Regions from separate parts of the Homo sapiens genome. Here region 1 is linked to region 2. The links come from fine-mapping of genetic effects on gene expression. Tissue or cell type: whole blood. Region 2 holds a variant in brackets; the other region holds the start of a gene. All regions are shown on one strand. Distances are between the middles of the regions.

What was found. PIP is the estimated chance that this variant, and not a neighbour inherited with it, causes the effect.
Region 1: it holds the start of FAM24B, and the variant in region 2 is fine-mapped to the expression of FAM24B in whole blood (TOPMed, PIP 0.94).

Annotation. Positions count from the first base shown.
Region 1 is chr10:122,875,745-122,885,910 of GRCh38, reverse strand. FAM24B (family with sequence similarity 24 member B) reads left to right here and starts at 6,330. Exons shown (of 4, transcript NM_152644.3): 1 at 6,330-6,426. FAM24B-CUZD1 (FAM24B-CUZD1 readthrough) reads left to right here and starts at 6,270. Exons shown (of 11, transcript NR_037915.1): 1 at 6,270-6,426. It also overlaps the pseudogene C10orf88B. RefSeq lists a silencer at 988-1,118 and enhancers at 9,081-9,600, 9,601-10,121.
Region 2 is chr10:122,845,940-122,856,105 of GRCh38, reverse strand. FAM24B (family with sequence similarity 24 member B) reads left to right here. Exons shown (of 4, transcript NM_152644.3): 2 at 320-461; 3 at 5,556-5,682; 4 at 6,667-7,028. The coding sequence starts at 5,591. The coding sequence ends at 6,859. FAM24B-CUZD1 (FAM24B-CUZD1 readthrough) reads left to right here. Exons shown (of 11, transcript NR_037915.1): 2 at 320-461; 3 at 9,886-10,166. Among named protein-coding and RNA genes, the nearest start is that of CUZD1, 5.2 kb to the right of the region's middle. RefSeq lists enhancers at 1,119-1,413, 8,512-9,393, 9,460-9,959, 9,960-10,166 and a silencer at 1,119-1,413. The variant C/T (reference allele first, on the strand shown) is at 5,595.

The sequences.
Region 1 (10,166 bases), 30 kb before region 2:
TGATGGGAAGCAGTGAGAAAGTCTTATACAGGATGAGAACTTTGAGGCCATTCTGAGTGCACTGTGGAGAATGGATTTTAGCAGAGCTGGAGGACCAGTTAGGAACCTCCTGAGGTATCCAGGTGAGATCACGGTGTGGGAGGAAGAAAAGTACACATTTCCATCTTTTTTGGAACTCTTCCGTCTTTTCCATAACTTCAGCTCTCCTTGTTCTCTTAACTCAGCCCACATGGTAATAGCGGCACTACATTAATATCTGTAGGCCACACATCTACAAGGAGTTCTTTACTTGCGTTATTTATTTTAAATTTTTACATCAATCCTGTGATTGTTACAGTGTTACCACTTAGATTTAGATTTTGCACATGAAGAATTTGTGTTAAAAAAAAAAAATGAATCAACTTGCCCAAAGGATGCAGAACTAAGAGGAGACAGGACAAGAGCTTGAGGTAATTTTACCTGACATCAAATCCTTTCTCTTGCTACTCTATCCCTCTGCTACCTTCTACATTTCTGGTTCCTTTTTCCTCTCCCTGTATCTGTACAAATGCAGCTATTCTCCAAGGATCTTTCTTCCTTGCTTCAGTCCCTCTCTTCACCACACTCCATCAGCTACTGTGGATACACCTCTAAACTTCCCTTCCAGCCACTTAAGGTTCATTCCATTTCTCCTAATCCTCTGTTTTCAGATGTTTGCAACATCCTCCCAGGGAATGTTTTATTCACAGCTAAAACTCAATATTCCAAAAACTAAACTTTTCTTCCCCCCAAGCATCCTCCTTCCTTGGGTTGAATTTAGATTATTTGTATTGCCATCCTTAAAGCCTCAATTTCACATTTGACTCTATTTTTCTCCCACAACACCAATATTAAGTTAGTTGTAAAGTCCCAACAGCTCCATTGTTTTAGCATTTCACCATACAGCATCATGTTACTATGTTCAATCTTAGACCCTCATTCTCGCTCATCTGGATGAGGGGAATAACGTGTAGCTGGTCTTCTCCTTGTAGTCTCACTTTCTTTTGATTTACCTTACACATGACAGTGGAAATACTTACAAATTTAAAGTAGCACTCAGACAGGGTGTGGTGGCTCATGCTGTAATCTTAGCACTTTGGGAGGCCAATGCGGGTGGATCACTTGAAGTCTGGAGTTTGAGACCAGCCTGGCCAACATGGTGAAACCCCGTCTTTACTAAAAATACAAAAAAAATTAGCCAGGTGTGGTGGCAGGCACCTGTAATCCCAACTACTAGGGAGGCTGAGGTGGGAGAATCGCTTGAACTTGGGAGGCAGAGGTTTCAGTGAGCCGTGGTCGTGCCACTGCACTCCAGCCTGAGCAACAGAGCGAGATTCCATCTCAAAAAATAAGTGAAGTAGCATTCAAAGCTCTCACTATGACCTAGCTGAAATCTACTTTAAACTTCCCCTATTCCCCTTCTGCTTCAGAGAAATGAACTACTACTCATTTCTCAGCTACATCCAATTCTTTTAGCATTGAAGATTTTATTCAGCCTATTTTTTGTCTGAATTGGCCTTCTTCCAAATTTACTTGCCTAATCCTGTCCTTTAAAGGCCTAGATAAAAATACCACTTCCTTTAGTGAGCCTTTCCTAATCTTCTTCATCCCTCCCCATTTATATGTCCTAGAATGTAAATCCTTAAAGACAAATTATAAACTGATATCTTTGCATCATGAAATGTACCCAAACTAGTGCCTTGTTCACTAAGAAGGTGCTTAATAAATACTTGCTGAATGAATGTGTGAATGAATTCATGAAAAAGTGTGAAGATTTGTAGTCAAAATATTTTGTAGGAGGGCAAGTCTATGAAATGTTATTTTTTACACAAGTAAATAAAGATAACAGTTAAATCAATTACAAAATTTCAAAGAAAAAATTTACATCACTACATGTATTTATAAAAAGCCATTACTTATAATTTTTAATGGTATCTGGAAAGTCATCCATTTCTACTTACCCACTGCTGAAACCTAACCATATTAATCAATTGCTGAGCTCCAGGAGATAACTTTGACCCCATGGACTCCATTATGGTTTGGATCCTGTCTAGTTCTATTCTTGATTTTACAGCAGGAGAGCCTGTTGAATAATTTGCTGAAACTGCTCTCATGTGTATCACAACTTTACTGATGAACACACACTGTCTTTCACCAAAGGAGCGCAACTATTACAATACAAAGTTCAGGAAAATAAATAATAATATTAAACAATATTCACTATTTAAGGTCACTCCTTTGTATTATCAACAAGAGTAAAGTATTCAGGAAAACAAATATAAACTTTAAATATATTTTCAAGTTTTCCCTAATACAGTAATGGTCAGAGGTTTCAATTTATTATGAAACTCAGAAGAACAATTTATATAAGACAATGTCATTTTCAAACTAAAAAAATATACTAAATATATGAAAGAAGGTAAAATTAAAGTTTCATTTATTTAAGCAACTCAGAATAGACTATGCCAATCTGAGACTTTAACACACAGCTGCTTACTATAATATTCTTTAATACAAAATAAGGGTGTTCAGAAGCCCATCCAAAGTGTTTACTGAATTACTAAATATAAATGAGCCATTTAGAATTATAAGGCAGGGTCAAGATGGTCTCACGTAACCCACTGGTTTACACATTTAAAAAGATGAAGTTAGAGGTAATTTTCTAACTTGTCAAAGGATTACCCAATTAGTAAAAGTCAGGCTTAGAACCTAGCTCTCCTGGCTGTTATAACAGTGCCCTCTCCAATGCTTTATGCTGCCTCTCTTCATTCATGTTTATGAACCAAAAGACATTTCATGTGTGGCACCAAAAACAGTATCAAAATGGAAAGGAAACAGGATTTAGAATGAGATAAACCAGAGTTCAGTTATGAGTCTGCTCTGTATAGCCTGTATGATCCTGGACAAATGCCAAAACACAAATCAGAATTAACATGAGGGAGGATCATATCAGTGATTTCACATGGTGGTTGGGATTATGTGCTAAAATTTCCAATGAGTAAGTATTTGAAAATATTCATCAGTAACTATTTTTGTAACTTTCATATTCTGCTGCCTCAGAATAAGCTTTAGTAGGCTTGGGATTTTCCTAAATGAAATGACCCTTTGCACTCACATATACTTCCATAGAATAGTTACAAAAAATACTCATCTTCAGAGAGACACACAGAACCATATGTAACCCAAAGACACAGGTCAATTCAGACCCATGGCACCAAAGATGTGACCATCCTTCACAATTAAGAAAACACTGTTAAATTTAAACAGTCGCCTCTCATCCTCTCTCTTATCCCCTTTCTGCTTCTTAATCCTTATAGCCTTTCTCACCACCAAACAAAACACAATTTTATTCAGAGTGTGCTCATTACCTGTCTCATCCCATTTGAATATAAGCAACACAAGGGTAGTTGCTCCATTTTATTACTGCTGCTTCCTAAATGCCTACTACAGTCTGTATCTGGTATCAGTAGGCACTCAAATATTTGTTGAATAAATCACTTTATTTAAATGACTTTGGAAGCGATTAATATATACTACCTAAAACAATGTCTTGGAACAATCTGATCTGTAAGTTTGTTACTTGCCTGCTATAAAAATCATTAACTTTTTCCTTATTCTTTTTATTTTTTTCTCTTTTTTGAGACAGAGTCTCCTTATGCCACCCAGGCTGGTCTCAAACTCCTGGGCTCAAGGGATCACCCTGCCTCGGCCTCCCAAAGTGCTAGGATTACAGGCATGAGCCACCATGCCCGGCCAACTTTTTCCTTAAAGTAAGTCTCACAACCCTGTATAATGTGGAGACAAAAAGAATACAATGCTTTATTTTCTTTAGTCTTCTAATTTACCCATGAGGTAGGTCCAAAGAAATGTAGAGATTTTCCCAAGGTCACTCAGGCAGTAACTAACAGAACTGCATTAATACCTTGGGCTATTTGTAGCTCAGTACTCTTAACTCTGATGACATCACTAAAGTTCACCTCAACAATATTTTTCATATTCAGGGTACCAGTCCAAATAGCTTTTAGGTGCTTTTCTCTGCAACTTCTCTAATTCTTGTCTTTTTAAACATAATGGGGACAAAACGTGGTTTTCTTGGCACCATAGTTTCATATAAAGATAAACAAGGACTAAGTTGGACTAACTGTATGAACAAACCAACAGTACATAAGTATATTATACATACATTTGCAATTGTCAAATTAGTTAAAATTTAGTGATGACCTACCTTTATTTTACAGGCATGAGTGGAGGATGCCAATATTAAGTAATTTTTGTAGAAAATAATTTCGCGTTTACTGAAAATAGAATAAAAATTATTTTTTCACTTATATAAATTATCAGTTTAAACAGCTGCAGTAAAAAAAAATTGTTTCCAGGCCATTACTTAAATCCTGAGATTCAGTTTGCCTGGTAGGGGACAAACAGTTGAGATCCCTTCTCAAGTGACCTGGTCAATAACCCTGTGTCGTGTATTTATTATTTCCAATATGCACAATATGTAAAATAGTTGACGTTTTGATTTATATTAAGGCGCGATTAGTGTAGAATGTTCCTATAAGGGACTAGGGAAAAGATCAAACTATAACACATTGAATATGGACTAAATAGGCTGGTGTGGCACCACCTTGGGCTTGTAGGTTCCTTAAAAAATATGTGATCAAAGTTTCAGACTGACTGTCAAATTAATTTCTGGAAAACAGACCATTGTGAGTTTATGGAGAGAGTCAAGAAGCAGCAATAAGGACTGCACTCTTGCCTGGACACTTTAACTAGTATGACCCTCTCCAGGCTCACCTCTCCTTTATTAGCTCTAAATTTCTGCATTCCTAAAAATGAGGAAGCTGAACTAGATTGCCTAGAAGATGCTTTAATGGTCTAACCTTCTATGCCATAGTAGGTTTTTATCTTCTCTTCTCTAATGTAAACATCAATGTCAGAGAGTCAATCAATATTGCAAAAGGTGAACAGAATAAAGACACCAATTCAGGAGAACACTTTCCCGTGTACAAGTCACACAACTGTCATCCAAGACAGTACAAACATTCTTGCCCCTACTGGTTCCACAGTACTCCTCTCCTAAGTACACTTCCATATTTCTTGCTGAACTTAAAATGCCAATAGAAGCGATTTCTTCACCTCCATCAGGGCCACACCTCAGGTAAAGGAAGCAGGGGTTTTCATCTTGGTTGTTCAATCTTCTCTTCTAAATCACCAGATTCTGGCTGAGAAGAAAACAGGTGAAAACATCACACAGTATAGTTTCTGAACATGGCTCAAAACCCACTTGTTAGGCCATGAGGTTTATTCTAACAAATGCTCAACACAGAATTCATAAGGAAATGGAGGCATCACACATCAGGGCTTCCCCCTCTATTTTTTCCTCAATCATCAACGTTCTACTCAGTCCCCTGCAATTGATTCTCGGATACATTACTGGACACCTACTGTGTGCACAGGAGTAGGAGCAGAACACAATAGAAGACAAAGTGTATCTTTTTCGAAATTAAGTCGACGGCGGTCGTCTATAGCTGGACTTTTTACACAGCCTGTTTTGGTGGAGAGGAGGTGGCTTGTTTGAGGGTAGATGGGCGGACTGACTTTGATAGCAGCCCTGACGACCCGTCACGCCTGACGGGGACGTTTATGAAATTCCAAGTCCTGGTCACCTTCCCCCGCTCATGCCTCGGGGCCTCGGGTACTTCCCGGCCAGACCTACCCCGCCTCCGCCCACCCCGGTCCTCGCCTCCACCTCGCAGCCCCGCTCCCCCGCAGAGACCCGACACCAACTGCTCTCCTGGATCCCGGACTCAGACCCTCACGTTCCCCGAGGAGCGCGGCAGTCGCCGAGCGCAGCGACCCGGTCGCCGGCGGCCCGGCGCACCGTGGCGCAGGTGGCGCCAGAAGCTCCTCCCAGTCGAAGTCGCGGGCGCAGACACGAGCCCGGGTGAGGAGGCTGTGAGTTAGGGCCCCGCCTGCGGCATCCCAGGAAGAGGCAAGCGTGGGGCGGCGGGTGAGGCCCCCGTCCTCGGACCGCGTGTCCACTGCGCCGCCTCCTGCCAGGCCTCTCTTCCAGTGCTTAAGTGTCGGCCAGTGCAGCGCAGAAACGGGCAGGCAGAGCGACTCCCGGCTTACATCATTTCAAATGCCCGCCGCTTCTGGATTTGGTGAGAACCTGCACCAGAGAAACGCATGCGCATAAGCCAACTGGACTCGAGAGGCGTTCAAACTTTGCTCAGGAAGCGCTAAAGAGCGGAGCATGCGCACTGGCAGGCCCTCGCTCAGCCTTTGGAGACCATGCGCAGGCGCGGTGCACTGTGCGCGGGCACCACGGCGGTTTTTCGACGCTGGCGGTGGACGCAGGCAGCATGGACCACGGTTGCTGGGCGGATGGGGAGCGTCTATGGTCAGGTAGGTGTCGTCTCTTCGCTCTACGCGATGTGCAGGACCGACTCCTGACCTCGTTCTTTCCCGAGTGGACGCCAGGGCCTTTTCTGCCTCCACTCCGTCGGGTCTGCAGCATTTGTGGCAGCGAACGCGGCGGAAGCGCTGTCCATTCGGGTTAATTTTACTCCGAACTCTCCCTGCCTCTCTCATACACATTCTCGCGTTAGAGGGGAGTTGAGGTAGATATTGAACGGCGTTAGTGGTGGACGCTGGGCCACACGGGCCTTCCCCAGGTGCCATCTCATTTGATGCTCCCTGATCCTACGGCGTTGCCAGGACTATGCTGGATGCCCTCGTGACAGAAATCAGAAGGTTGAGAAAGATCCCAGGTGTTTGGATGGAGCGGTCGCCTGAGGGAGTTTTCCAGATGCCCCATGGAATAGGAAGTAGATCTTGCCTCTTTCTTCCTTTTGTACTCCAGATGCATTCTAAGTTGTGTACACCAGACTTCCTGTTCTTTATGCCCAGCCCATTGTAGTCATAAGTTAACTTTGATACATGTCATCATAATTGGACAGTCTAAAGGAAAATAGGCTTTTTAGAATTACCTATCTGAAACTTCATGAGCAAGATCAATACTATAAGCTGGATTTTGACTTCCTTAAATAAGGCAGAAAGCCTACAGCATTTTGTCGTCTCCCCTTTCTTTCAATCTCGTATGTTCAGTATTATCACCCAGTCTTGTTTTATTTTTGGTTTTTAAAGAAAAACTTCCCTGTCTTTCTCCATCTCTGCCTCTCTGTTTTGAAATACTAGCTTTCATCGGAACAATTCCAGGAGTTTCTTTACTGGTTGATAGTCATTATCTCCTCACCTGCGTTTCATTTTCTGCACTGCCCTCTAATCTTTTATCAATTGTCCTGATGCTTGATGCTTTCTGACTGAATCACCATCACCATTACTTTTTTTTTTCTTTTGAGATGGAGTTTCAGTCTGTCACCCAGGCTGGAGTACAGTGGTGTGATCTCGGCTCCTGCAACTTCCGCCTCTTGGGTTCAAGCGATTCTCCTGCCTCAGCCTTCTGAGTAGCTGGGACTACAGGCGTGCACCACCAGGCCCAGCTAATTTTTGTATTTTTAGGAGAGACAGGGTTTTGCCATGTTGGCCAGGCTGGTCTCAAACTCCTGGCTTCAAGTGATCCGCCCGCCTCGGCTCCCAAAAGTGCTGGGATTACAAGCGTGAGCCACCGCACCTGGCCACCATTACTTCTTAACAGGCATACAAAGCCCTTTATCCTTGACTTCTGCCTGCCTCCTAGACCCCCCAGCTTTTGTACATGCTTTTCCCTCTACCTAGAATGCCCCTTCTTTTGGATAGGAAAAATCCTGTTCATCATTTAGTGCCAAGCACAGCCCTCCACACTGTGAGAGAATTTGTCAGTAATTTCTCTCTGCTACACTTAGAGTTTTTAGATACTATAATTCTCTTCTGGTATGGAGCTTTACCAAATAATTCTCACATTTGTTTTCCCAACCATCTGTACAGTTGTTGAAAATAGGAATTGTTTTGTGCCTAGTAGAGATTGAGTATAGGTTTGTTGTATGGAATTGATAGAGATAGCAATAGGGGTTGTTTGGGAACTCTATCACAGTATAACAGGAGTAGAAAGAGGTGAAACTGGCAAATTCAATCTTATTTTCAAAGCTGAAAAAACTTTGCAAAAGTTAGTGAGAAAATTATGACAGTGAAAGAGATCTGAGCTAATCCATCCCCAGTCTTGCCTTGATTATTCTTGGGCTTTTGGGACATTTAGGCTATAGTTTAAATTATCATAGGCCTTCCCCCAAACTCAACTGCTTTTGCATCAGGCTGGCAGGAGGAGAGGAGCCTGGGTCCTGCTAAGGTGCAGACATGAACTATTATCAGTTATTATTCAGAAGGTTATAAGATATGCAACTTCCCCAATTATTCCTGCAGATAACACCACTATTGTAGACTGGCCTTTTGAGATATCTTTTCAGGGTTTTTTTGCATGTCTGACACCCACCATTCCTACAGCCCCACCCAGAAGTGACTCAATGTGCAAGAGGACAGCTTCACCCCTTGTGATTTCATCTCTGCCCCAACTAATCAGCAGCAAGCCTAGCGACCTCCACCACTTCCCCCAAACTGCCTCTGAAAAATCCCTAACCTATAAGCTTTGGATGAGAATTGTGGCTGGCCTTATGTCTATTAAACTCTTTCTTTACTACAATGCCATGATCTTTGTGTAGCAGGCAGGAAGAACCCTTCAGATGGTTACAAAGCCAGGGTGTTGTGCTGGTGCCTAGGTGACCTCAATTTTAATGTAAATTACTCTTGTCGTGAATGGCAAATGGTATTTTTTGCTTTATTTTTATTTTTTCACTTGAAATAAAGAATAAGGCATATCTTTGAAATCTTTCCACCAATATCACAATGTATTTTTTTGGCTTGACTGTTTTAAAGAGAAGTTTATTATATATAACTTGTAGAATTTAGAGTAGAATCATATATGTATCTACTGTTGCTAACAGAGTGCCTTTGCATAGTGGCAATCAAACACTTTAGTCCCAGGACCTTTTACCCTCAAAATATTGAATATTCTAGAAAGCTTTTGTTTTTGTGTGCTCTTTTCTTATTTTTTAACACTTCTGGTTTCATCTGTGACACGTAAACCACTTAGAAGTCAATCACAACTGTCCTCACAAGAAAAAAGCTGAACAAATGGAACATTAACAGCCTTTAAAATATCCATCAGATAATGGAGGTCACAAAGCAAATGGCCACCCCCAAACTGGGTAGGCAAATACAGAAAATCACAACTGATATCAGCATGCTAGGAACAGAAATCCTCATGAGGCAGCAAATGGTAGGAACACTTAAAATGGTCATTGATGACTTGCTGGATGCTGAGTGTGAGTTAGCTTGACAGTTAGAAACTCCTGGGAGACCACTCATATGGTGCCCTTACACTTTTGGGAGTTTTACTTTTCAGAGCTGCAGCAGATTCTTAGGACAAGGATTGGATTAAAACTCCCTCCTGCTTTGTGCAGAAGGAGGGGGCAAAGTAACCTTTTTGAAAACTGCCCTCAGCATTTCCCTAACAAAAGCCTTCTCTCAAGGGAAAGTACTTTACCAGAGCCTTATCTGTTCTAGGGAAAGGGCAATTAGAAGATTCCAGCCCCCTCTAGCCTTCCCGTTGTTAGTGGTAGTGAATCTGCAGGGGGCTGCAGCAACCTCAATTCTTGTCAGAAGAAAGAATTCGACCAAGGGTCATAAGGAAGAGTGAGAGACCAAGGCAAGTTTTAGGGCAAAAGGAAAAATTTATTTAAAAGCTTTAGAGGTGGAACAAAAGGAAGTAAAAGTACACTTGGAAGAGGGCCAAGCAAGCGCCTTGAGAGATCAAGTGCGTGGTTGGACCTTTGATTTTGGGTCTTACATGTTGACATGCTTCCAGGGTTGCATTATTTCTTGCTAATTCTTCCCTCAGGGTGGGCTGTCTGCATGCTCAGTGGCGTGCCAGCACTAGGGCGGGGCTGTATGCATAGTGTGTTTACTGGAGTTGTATGCATGCTCACTTGAAGCATTCTTCTCTTACCCATCAAATGTTCTTAGAAGGTCATATACCAGTTAAACTCTGCCATTTTGCCTCTTAGTGCACATGCTTGAACCCACTTGTCCAACTCCTGAGATCTTATCGGCAAGCCGTTGATCACCAGTTTCAGGGTTTTTTTTTTTAATTA
Region 2 (10,166 bases):
GCCACATATGGTTCAGGTCAAGAACAGCAGGAGAGGTTGAAAGGCAAAGGCATGTTTATGTACACTCTTGGCTTTTTTACCTTCTGTTTTGGGGCTGTGAGCTTGTAAATAAAATGTTCTCAGCCTGGTGGCTCTGTGCGTCAGCGCTGCCTTGTTGTCACTTTAAATAATTGAGTTTACTATCGGGTGTTTAACTCAGCATGTTAGCTGAGCTCTCCCTCTGTCTGAGGCACTGTAGACTGAAGAAACTGACAAGCTGAATGATCTCCCCTTTCCTGAGCTAGAGAGTACTTGAGCTGTTCTCTTTTCCCCTCTCCAGTTGCCTTAGAAGTGGTGAGATGGGAAGCTGCAGTTGGAAGACCCTGGAGGATGCCTGACAAGGGGATGTCTGACACATGATTGGAGCTCTTTTTGAAATGTTTCTTGCCCTTCCTGGAGCAGAGGAGCCATTATTTATGCAGGTAAAATAAGATGAACTGTTACTTCTCTTGAATCATGTGAGTATGAGAAGAATGCCTCCCAAGAAATGAGAGGTTGATTTGACAGACTCAGTCTTGTCACATTTTGTGGAAGTTAAGCCTGTGAGTTAGAGGGCAAATCCCAGAGCCCAGTGCGTGGCAGATTGTGATCTTCCTCATCGTGCCTGCACCGCCGGGGGATCTGCATGGATCACCTAGACAGGCACTGATAAGGTAGAACATGGTAATTCATCACTAAGTTTGCAGTTTTTTCTCTTTGGTTCTTTTAAAACTGATTTTACAGTCATAAAGTTTGGTGAGGGAAAGACTGGATGGGAATTTCGGAGATGGGAAGAGAGGTGTAATCTGGTTCTGGGACGTATAGTAAAATGTGCCATTTGGATTTTACAAAGACACAGAAACTGTCTTCAAACCTTGGCAGTTCATAAAATCCGATTGCATATTGTTCACCACAATCTTTATTTCTCTGAGAATAAAAGATTCAGTTAAGGAGATCCTCTCTCTGGGGCAAAACCCAACTCTTCTCATGGCATTTGCCAGGGCCATAGCAAGGTCCCCATCTGCACCAAGAGTCTGAAGGTAAAGATAAGTTTCCCGGGAGCGGAGCAGAAGGAGCTGTGGAGGAGGCACAGAGATGGGAACTGGGTCAAGTAGGGAGCTCACAGGCTTATGTAGTTTTGGATCCAGGATGCTTCTGTCACCAGAGATGCAATTTAGCAGGCATCGGGGTGTTTGCACCATTTGTTAGTGGTTAGTCACAGGTGTTAGTCACAGGATGGGCAGTTCGCAAATAACTGACTTGGGTGAAAGTCCTTGTGGATGTGTATTACAGAGAATTTCCATAGAGAAAAGGCCAGCCCCTGTATTGGGAATCGCATTTTGCAAAGTTGAACTCACTGATTCTGAGCACAGTTGCTGCCTACCTTTTGCCATCTGGAACACATGGCCCCATCCCTCTCAATACTCTTAAGCAGTCACCACATGTGAATCATCAGTGAGATATTGCTTCGAATGAAAACATCAACACAAAAATCAGCCCCTTCCTTAAATGAAATGCAACGGGATTTATTTGCAGATCTTTCAGCTGACAGCCAAAATCATGGCCTTTGAATAATAGAGTTGGGGGACTGGGAATGGGGAACAACACATCATTTCAGAAGGTTCAGGAAGGCTGGGGGTGGAAGAGCATTGGACTTGGGAAGCAGGAGATGGAGGGAAGGATTATAGAACTAGGTCCTAGTTTCTTTGCTGCCAGTGACTTGCTGTGTGACCCAAGGGAGTCACTTCCACTCTCTGAGCTTTAGTTTCCTCATCTTTCAAACAGAGGTTTTAGTTGTTGCCTCCTGGTTGCCTTCATTGCAACTCAGAAAGATATTACTAAAACACATTGGAAGTAGTTAAATGTTGGTGACTTACAAGCAATGTAGAAAGTATGCATTCTTTTTAATAAATGAAATAATATTGGTCAGGGTTTAACTGCTATGTCTGAGTCACTGCACTGTCTAAATTTAGAGGCTCAGTCAGAAAAAGTGAGTACCAGACTGACAAAATTCAGATTTCAGTCATTGATCATAACATGTGCCAGCACCTAATAGGTTCTAGGTTCTCTGATACCTAGGGTTGCAGAGCTCCTGCCCCCACAGAGCTCACAGACACCTTGAAAAAGCAAACTTTAAATGCACAAGCCCACAGACTATCAAACAGCAATCAGGTAACCACAGAAATAGAGGGAAACCGAGAGATGAAGTAGTCACCCCCATGGGGAGGGTCCACAGGGCCTAGCTCCTTAATGATGACTAAGCTTATTTAGGGTTATATCCCTCTGAACCCAAGTAGGGACTACAGACATCTGCTACCACACCTGGCTAATTTATTTTCACTTTCATTTTTAAAATTTTTTGTAGAGATGGGGTCTCACCATATTGCCAAGGCTGATCTCAAACTCCTGAGCTCAATCCAATCCTCTTGCCCTACCCTTCCAAAGTGCTGGGATTACAGGCATGAACCACTACACCTAGTCAACAATTCAAATTTCCATATAGGCACAAACAAAGGGCATGGATACATAGGGAGAGGAGCAATTAACACGGGAGGGAGAGAGGTGGAAATCAGTGAAGGTTTTATAAGGACATGGCATTTTATTGAAGTCTTGCAGGATTGGTGTTTCAGCAGATAGAGGAGGCGAGGGACAGGGAGGGCCATCTAACCAGGTCACAGGCATGAAAATACATGGGGTGTGGGATAATGGAGAGGGAGATGAGGCTGGAAAGATGTTATGTTGAGATATGGGCTGGATAACACATGCGAAGGGCCCAGGGTACAAAATGTAAGGAAACACTCATTTTCAGGATTGAGCAAGTGTAGGGTTGGTGCAGAGGCTGTGGCTTTTAAGCAGAGGACTGATTTAAAAATTTCCCATATAGGGGACTTCCACTTATGGGAAGAGATACTTTTTCTTATTCTTCCTAAGTACAACTAAAATCCATGGACATTATATATAAAACAAACATAAGACTTGAATAGGTGGAGAGAAGAAGGAAGGCTAGCTAGGGACCTTGGGATCAAAGTAATAGCATGGTAGTGAGTTCCCTAAGTTTTGCTTTTTGTCTCGGATTCCTAAACTTGGAGCTGAAGAAGTGAGCAACTTGGAAACACCAATGGGTTCAGACAAAAGAGCCCCACCAAGAAACTGGTTTTTCTGGCCAAAAGACCAGGAAATGGGCAACTCAACAAGACAGAAAACTTTTAGACAATAGCTTCTGCATTCTAGGCAAACACCATAGAAAAAGCTATGGCCCTATCCCAACTCCACCAGCGAAGACTGAGTAGAGAGCCTAGATGTCTACTGTTACCAAGCTGTAAAGAAGTGTCCCAAAGCACCCCTCCACCAGGGTGGTGTCAGAGAAGGCTGAATAAAGAGCAGAGACTCACCTCTGACCCCTGTGGTATCAGTGGAGACCCCTTGGGGAGTCTGGATTTCTTCTCTGACTCAATAGATAATGGGGCAACTTTCCACTTAACTTCTGGGGTGGCATCAGAGGAGGCCTGGTGAAATTTCATGACTTTTATTATCTCGCAGTGGTAATAAGGCCACCTCCACTGCAGTGTCAGTGGAGACTAAAACAGAAAGGAATTTTCCTGTTGTCTTCATTATAAGAACCTGGTGAGTTCCTGGAGATATGACTCATGAATGTGTGCCCCCACCCAACAAAACAAAACAAAACAAAATTGGGCCCTCAGGAGTTTTTAAATATTCCGCTAGTCCCTATTCATCATCCAGGAAGACATCAGTTACCATGTAAGTGTTCTTACCAGTTGCTGGCTCTGGCAATGGCTTCTGCTCCTAAGCTGGGATTCTCTGTATTCACCTCTCTCTTTAGTTTTGGGGGTGGCTGTTTGCCCTGTGACTTCAATTTTCTGGTTGACTTAAGAGTTGTTGATTCAGCTTTTATTCAGCCACTTTATTCAGCTTTTTACTTGTTGTGAGGATGGGAATGATGACTCCCAAGCCCTTCACATGTTTGTGCAGAAACCAGAAGTCCTGTGTTCACTTTTACCCATTTTTTTTTCTTTCTGTATTGCAGTTTGGATAATCTCAACTATCTTCAAGTTCACTGATTCTTCTGTCAATCCCAATCTGCTATGAAAGCCCTTCTAGTGAATTTTTCATTTCAGTTATTGTAGTTTCCAATGACATAATTTCTATTTGGTTATTTTGATAATTTTTATCTTTATTGGTATTTTTTATGATGAGACATTATTCTCATATTTTCCTTTAGTTTTTTGGACATGGATTCCTTTGAACATATTTAAAAGACTTTAAAAGTATTTTCTAGTAGGGCCAATGTCTGGGCTTCTTCCAGAAACAGTTTTTATTTATTGCTCCCCCACTCCTTTATGGGCCATACTTTCTTATAGGCTTTTTTGAAAACTGGACATTTAAAATAATATAACATAGCATCTCTGGGAATCAGACTCTTAACTAAAACTTTTCTCTGAGGGAAACAAAGCCTGAAAAGGGGAGATTGAGTATTCCATGGCTTAAGAGAGTATTTAGGCATATCTACTTCCATTGGTGCTAAAATATATCTGGAAGTGGAATGGAATTCAGAACTCCATGAAAGAGAGCTGGTGTCCAGAGCGTTGATGTCACACAGCGTGTGTCCTGATTGGCACAGAAGTTGGAACTAGATTGTGGATATCCATTCTGCTAGCTCTGCTGGAAGACTGCTTCTAAAAGCAAGCTCTTCAACTTTGGATGTTAATCATTAGAATTTTCTTTCTCAAATTAAAGGTTTGAGAAATTCGTGATGAGATGTCCTGTTCCCTAAAGTTTACTTTGATTGTAATTTTTTTTTACTGTTGGCTTTCATCCAGCCATGAGGAGTTAGAAGGTGGTAAGTATGCTTTGGCAATCAGATTGTTTATTCTTCTCCCCTGACTCACTTTTTCCCAGTTTCAGAAAGTTAAACTAATTTATTATCTCAAATTGGATTTCTTGGGAGAATTTAAGATTTAGGAGGAAAAATGCCAGTTGTCAGAGGAAGAATTGTAAAGTTCTTTTCCTAAAACATGCATCATTTACAAAATGGATTTGCATATTCTCAGTATTGTTGGGACAGTAACATTTGGAAACAGTCATTTCCACAGAAGAGCTTTGAGCCTGATATCCAGTGGGGGGTCATTTCTGACTCTGAAAATGAGTATAGCTCAGGAGGCCCAGGTGCTGGGGAGTGACGCCATCAGCTCCACTGCAGGCCTGCTTGTTATTTCCAGCCGCATATCACACCTGTGAAAGGGAAAGATTCTTCCCACTGTTTGTCCTTCTGATAGCCTTCTCTCTGGACTTTGCATTTCCATTCCTTTTCATTGACAAACTGACTTTTTTTATTTCTTTTTTTCCATCTCTGGGCCAGCTTGGGATCCTAGGCCGCCCTGGGAAGACATTTGTGTTTTACACACATAAGGATCTGTGTTTGGGGTTTCTTCTTCCTCCCCTGACATTGGCATTGCTTAGTGGTTGTGTGGGGAGGGAGACCACGTGGGCTCAGTGCTTGCTTGCACTTATCTGCCTAGGTACATCGAAGTCTTTTGACCTCCATACAGTGATTATGC[C/T]TGTCATCGCTGGTGGTATCCTGGCGGCCTTGCTCCTGCTGATAGTTGTCGTGCTCTGTCTTTACTTCAAAATACACAACGCGCTAAAGTGAGTCACAAGTTCAAAATAAACAACGTACTAAAGTGAGTCACATGGGGAAAAGGGGATAGCACTTCCTCAGTGGGATACCTGGGCTTCCTGTTGGAGCAAGGTCATTCCTTGCTGCTGTGGCCATACCCTGGGTGAAGTCAAGAAGAACAGGCAGCTTTGTAAAAGCAAAGACAGCTGAGTGTAGAATCTTATTTTTTTTCTTCCTGGCTGGGGTTGGTAGAATGTTCTCAGCTTTGGCCTGTGAGTGTCAGCGCTGCTTGGCTGTCACTGGACCTCACTAAGTTTACCATCAGGTGTTTAATTCAGCACCTTGGCCAAGACTCCCTCTGTCCTGGGCACTGTAGGCTGCAGATTCTGTGGGGGAGGCTGCATGAACGAGCTCTGCCTTGTGCTCATGTGGAGGACGGGCTGGATTGATCTCTTCTTGCCTGAATTGGGAGCTCTCAGGATATTCCTCCATTTGTTTCTGGAGGCCTTGGGGAAAATGACTGGGGCTCTAGATCTCAGGGACAGCTGAACCGTGTGAAAAACCTGGGGAACAGTGGACAAGGGAGGGTAGGTCAGATAAGATTGCATTTTGGGGAGAAGACCCTTTAAGTACCAGAGAGATTGGTTGTCAGATGCAATTGTGTCCCCATTCTAAGGAGTTCACAATGGCACATCCCGGAGCCTGGGACACAGCCAAATGCAGCACCTTCCCATCATTCCTGCATCTCGGGGGCCTGCAGTGACCAGTTGGGTGACCTTGCTTGCAAAATCACTCACTCTTGCTTTTGTAACCTCAGTTTACATTTATAGCAATCATAGAAGAGGAAAGGATTCGAGAGGAACTTGGGATGGGGGAGAGAGCTTTAATGTAGGGCTGGTGTTCATGTTTGACTGGCTTCAGCACTAAACTCCCCAGATACCCCCCAACAGTTCTAACAAAAGGGCTGAGAAGAAAAATTCTAAGCCTGTGCTTTGTGTGTGTCTTTTCTCAAGAGCTGCAAAGGAACCTGAAGCTGTGGCTGTAAAAAATCACAACCCAGACAAGGTGTGGTGGGCCAAGAACAGCCAGGCCAAAACCATTGCCACGGAGTCTTGTCCTGCCCTGCAGTGCTGTGAAGGATATAGAATGTGTGCCAGTTTTGATTCCCTGCCACCTTGCTGTTGCGACATAAATGAGGGCCTCTGAGTTAGGAAAGGTGGGCACAAAAATCTTCATGAGCAATACTTCTTAGTAGATTGTTTTGTTATTCAAATCAAGTTCTAGTGTTTTTATGTGAGATTATATAATTTACAGTGTTGTTTTATATACTTTTGAATAAATGTACACTATTAAAAATAATCCTCTTTGCTGCCAATATTTTTTGATTGTTGATTATAAACATCCTTTGTTTAAATATATTTATTACTCACTTTGGAATGTGGGGGGGGATTAGCTTGTAGCATTGCAATAGAAGAAAGAGAATTGGAATAAAAGTGTCCAGCACATCTCCCACCCGAGAAGGAAAATGCACACTGTTCTTAGGACACTTCCAATTTCAGCCCAGCTGATCTTGTCCAGCTGGAGTCGCTCGTTTAGCTCTCGTGAGGGCTTGGATGGTTGACATCCACCGCAGAAAATGGTGTCATGTCCTGATACCTGTCCTGTTGTCCTGTCCATTTATCCAAGACAGTGAGAGGAGCCAGGCAGGACCTCCCTGTGTTAAAGTTGTCTGACCTGTGTAAGATAGGCCTGAGCTCAGTGACCTCAAAAGGACCTTTTGAAAACCAGTTTCTTCCTACTGCAATCCCCAAATCTCCAGAGCATGTGGCTCCTGCGTGGATTACGGTAACAGTGATGTGTGTTGATCCAGCCATCAACATCTTCAACTGTAACACGAACCACCAGCCAAAGGCCAAAGCCCAGACTCCCTGACCACAACAGCAGGTGGCAGGAAGCACTCCTCCCCACTTTACTCCCAGCTGCCTTCTGTTCCAGCTCCTGCCCCTGAGCCTCCTGGAACCCCTTTCTAAGCATGATTCCCTATCTGTAACCGCCATGTCCACTCCTCTCATGAACTAAACCCTTGCTTGTGACCATCACATGTATACTGAATGTAAAGAATTATTAGCTAGTAACAGGTGGTAATCTACTAAAAGGGGGTAAAAAGGAAAACAGAAGTCGCAAATGAAGGAAACAGCTGTGACAGCTAGGCACAGAAACAGGCCAGATGTGGGTGGAGGAGCTGCCTGTAGACGCCGAGCACCTCCTGGAGGCTGAGCCTCCAGCCCCAGCATGCTTGGGAAGAGGCCAAGTCAGGGCAGCCTCCAGCTGGAGGTCACCTGTCCCCCTTAAGTTTCCGGGCACTGTCTCTGTCCCCTGCCTTTGATTTTCTCTTGTCACCAGCCAGCTCTGACAGATGGAGCACATACAAATCCCCTCTTACCCCACCCAGTGGGTGGCCCAGTGCCTGGATCCAGGACGCCTGTGCCAGGGCCTCCCCATGTGGGTGACTATACCTGGTGCAGGTATTGCGGGGGCCGTGAGGGAGGTGGGACAAAGGTCTTCAGGACACCCCCATTAGCAGGAGGACAGAGCACCGCACATGGGCTTTAGAGCCCTATGGAGCCGGTTCCCATCCCAATTCGGCCTTCACCAGGGGAAGTCCCTTGACTCATCTGAGCCTCTGTGTCCTTGATGTGAAGTGCGGACTTGCACAGGTGACAGAGAAGAAGCAATGAGATGATGCAGGGTGACCCCACAGCACCCCGTGGTCCCCAGGAAGTTGCCAGAGGCCTGAAGGGGGCTTCTCTCCTGACTGGATCTGGAAGCCTGGGTCCTTTGCCAGGGCCACCTAACAGAGTGTGGCCATGAAACTCTCGCACTCAGTGGAGATGGATTAGGGATGTTGGAGATCCCAGCCATGGGTGACAAAGAGGGGTTCAGAGGGAAAGCCCAGGGTGGGAGTGGGTATCCATGGACACAGCTGCAAGCGCTTAGTAACCAGAAGGGTCCCCCATCTCAAACACCTGTGGCCTGCTAACTCACCCCAGGACACCCAGTCCTGCCTCATCCACAGCCAGCCCGGGCAGATAGGAATGGAGCAGAGCAAGGCAGGGGCCTTGGGGTATGTCCAAGCTCCTCCTGAGCATCCCAGGTGCTGCCTTTCCCCTGCAAGGGTCCAACGAGGAATGGATCCCCTGGGTCACAACGTAGGACTGTGCTCTCCCTAGGGAGGCCTCCTGGGCTGCAGCACAGTCAGAACAACACAGAGGGGCTGACGGTAGCCAGAGGGTTTCACCCTAGGAGACTTAGCCTACACGAGCGTCAGACCTCCCCAGAGCTGCACAAAGGTTCTTCAGAAAGTAGCCAGTCCTGGCATTGTCCACTCAATATGTTCCACCTGAACTTAGAGTGAAAACCAGACTCATTTGCCCTATGGGTCCTTCCCCATCTGACCTTCACCTGCTCCTCTCCATCCTCCCCTCCCAGCTCACTCCTCCCACTCATGACCAGCCAGGCTGTTCTTTATTCCCTACTATTGTAGGTGTGCCCACCTGGTCTCTGCCTCGGGGCCTGTGCACTTGCCCTCTCTTTTGCCTAAGATGCAGCCCCCAAGCTCAGATCACCCATGAATGCCTCCCTCTTGTCTTTCTGCCTTTGTTCAGATTTCATCTCTCAAGATGCCCTCCTTCTCACTGTCATATTTCCTCCCCACCCCAAGGCAACCACCATCTATGCAGTCATCCTGTTTATTGTATCCTTAGCTCCTCTCACCAGTTGAATTCTTCATTTATTTTTGTTGTTTAACTCTCCACTTAGAATACAAGTTTCATGAGGGCAGGACTGTGTCTCTCACATTCAATTCTATATTGCTTAGGCCCTAGATCAATAAGTAATGTTTACTGACTGAATGAATGAAAAGAGGGCAGCCCCCACCCACCACCACTTGCTCCTCCCAATCTCAATGTGGACACTAGGATTTCTTTCTCTCAACTGCAAAACACCGTGCCCGAGAGACTAATTCACCTGCTTCAGTCTCTCCAGACATAACTGGTTAGAAATCGCTGTGGGGGAATCTGGATCTGCACTCTTTTTCTCTTCATCCTCTACCCTCTTCCCCTCCCCCACAGGGTCAGCCACCTGGCAGGGCATCTGAATGTCCCAGCTGGACCCAGATTTTGCCCAGGTGCTGCACCCCCTGCCTTGCCCCACAGGCCTTTGTTCTCCCACAGGCTCCCTTCTCAAAGCAGAGCCCTGAAGACTTCAATGATGTCAATGAGGCCACCTGTTTGTGATGTGCAGGCACAGAAGAAAGGCACAGCTCCCCATCAGTTTCATGGAAAATAACTCAGTGCCTGCTGGGAACCAGCTGCTGGAGATCCCTACAGAGAGCTTCCACTGGGGGCAACCCTTCCAGGAAGGAGTTGGGGAGAGAGAACCCTCACTGTGGGGAATGCTGATAAACCAGTCACACAGCTGCTCTATTCTCACACAAATCTACCCCTTGCGTGGC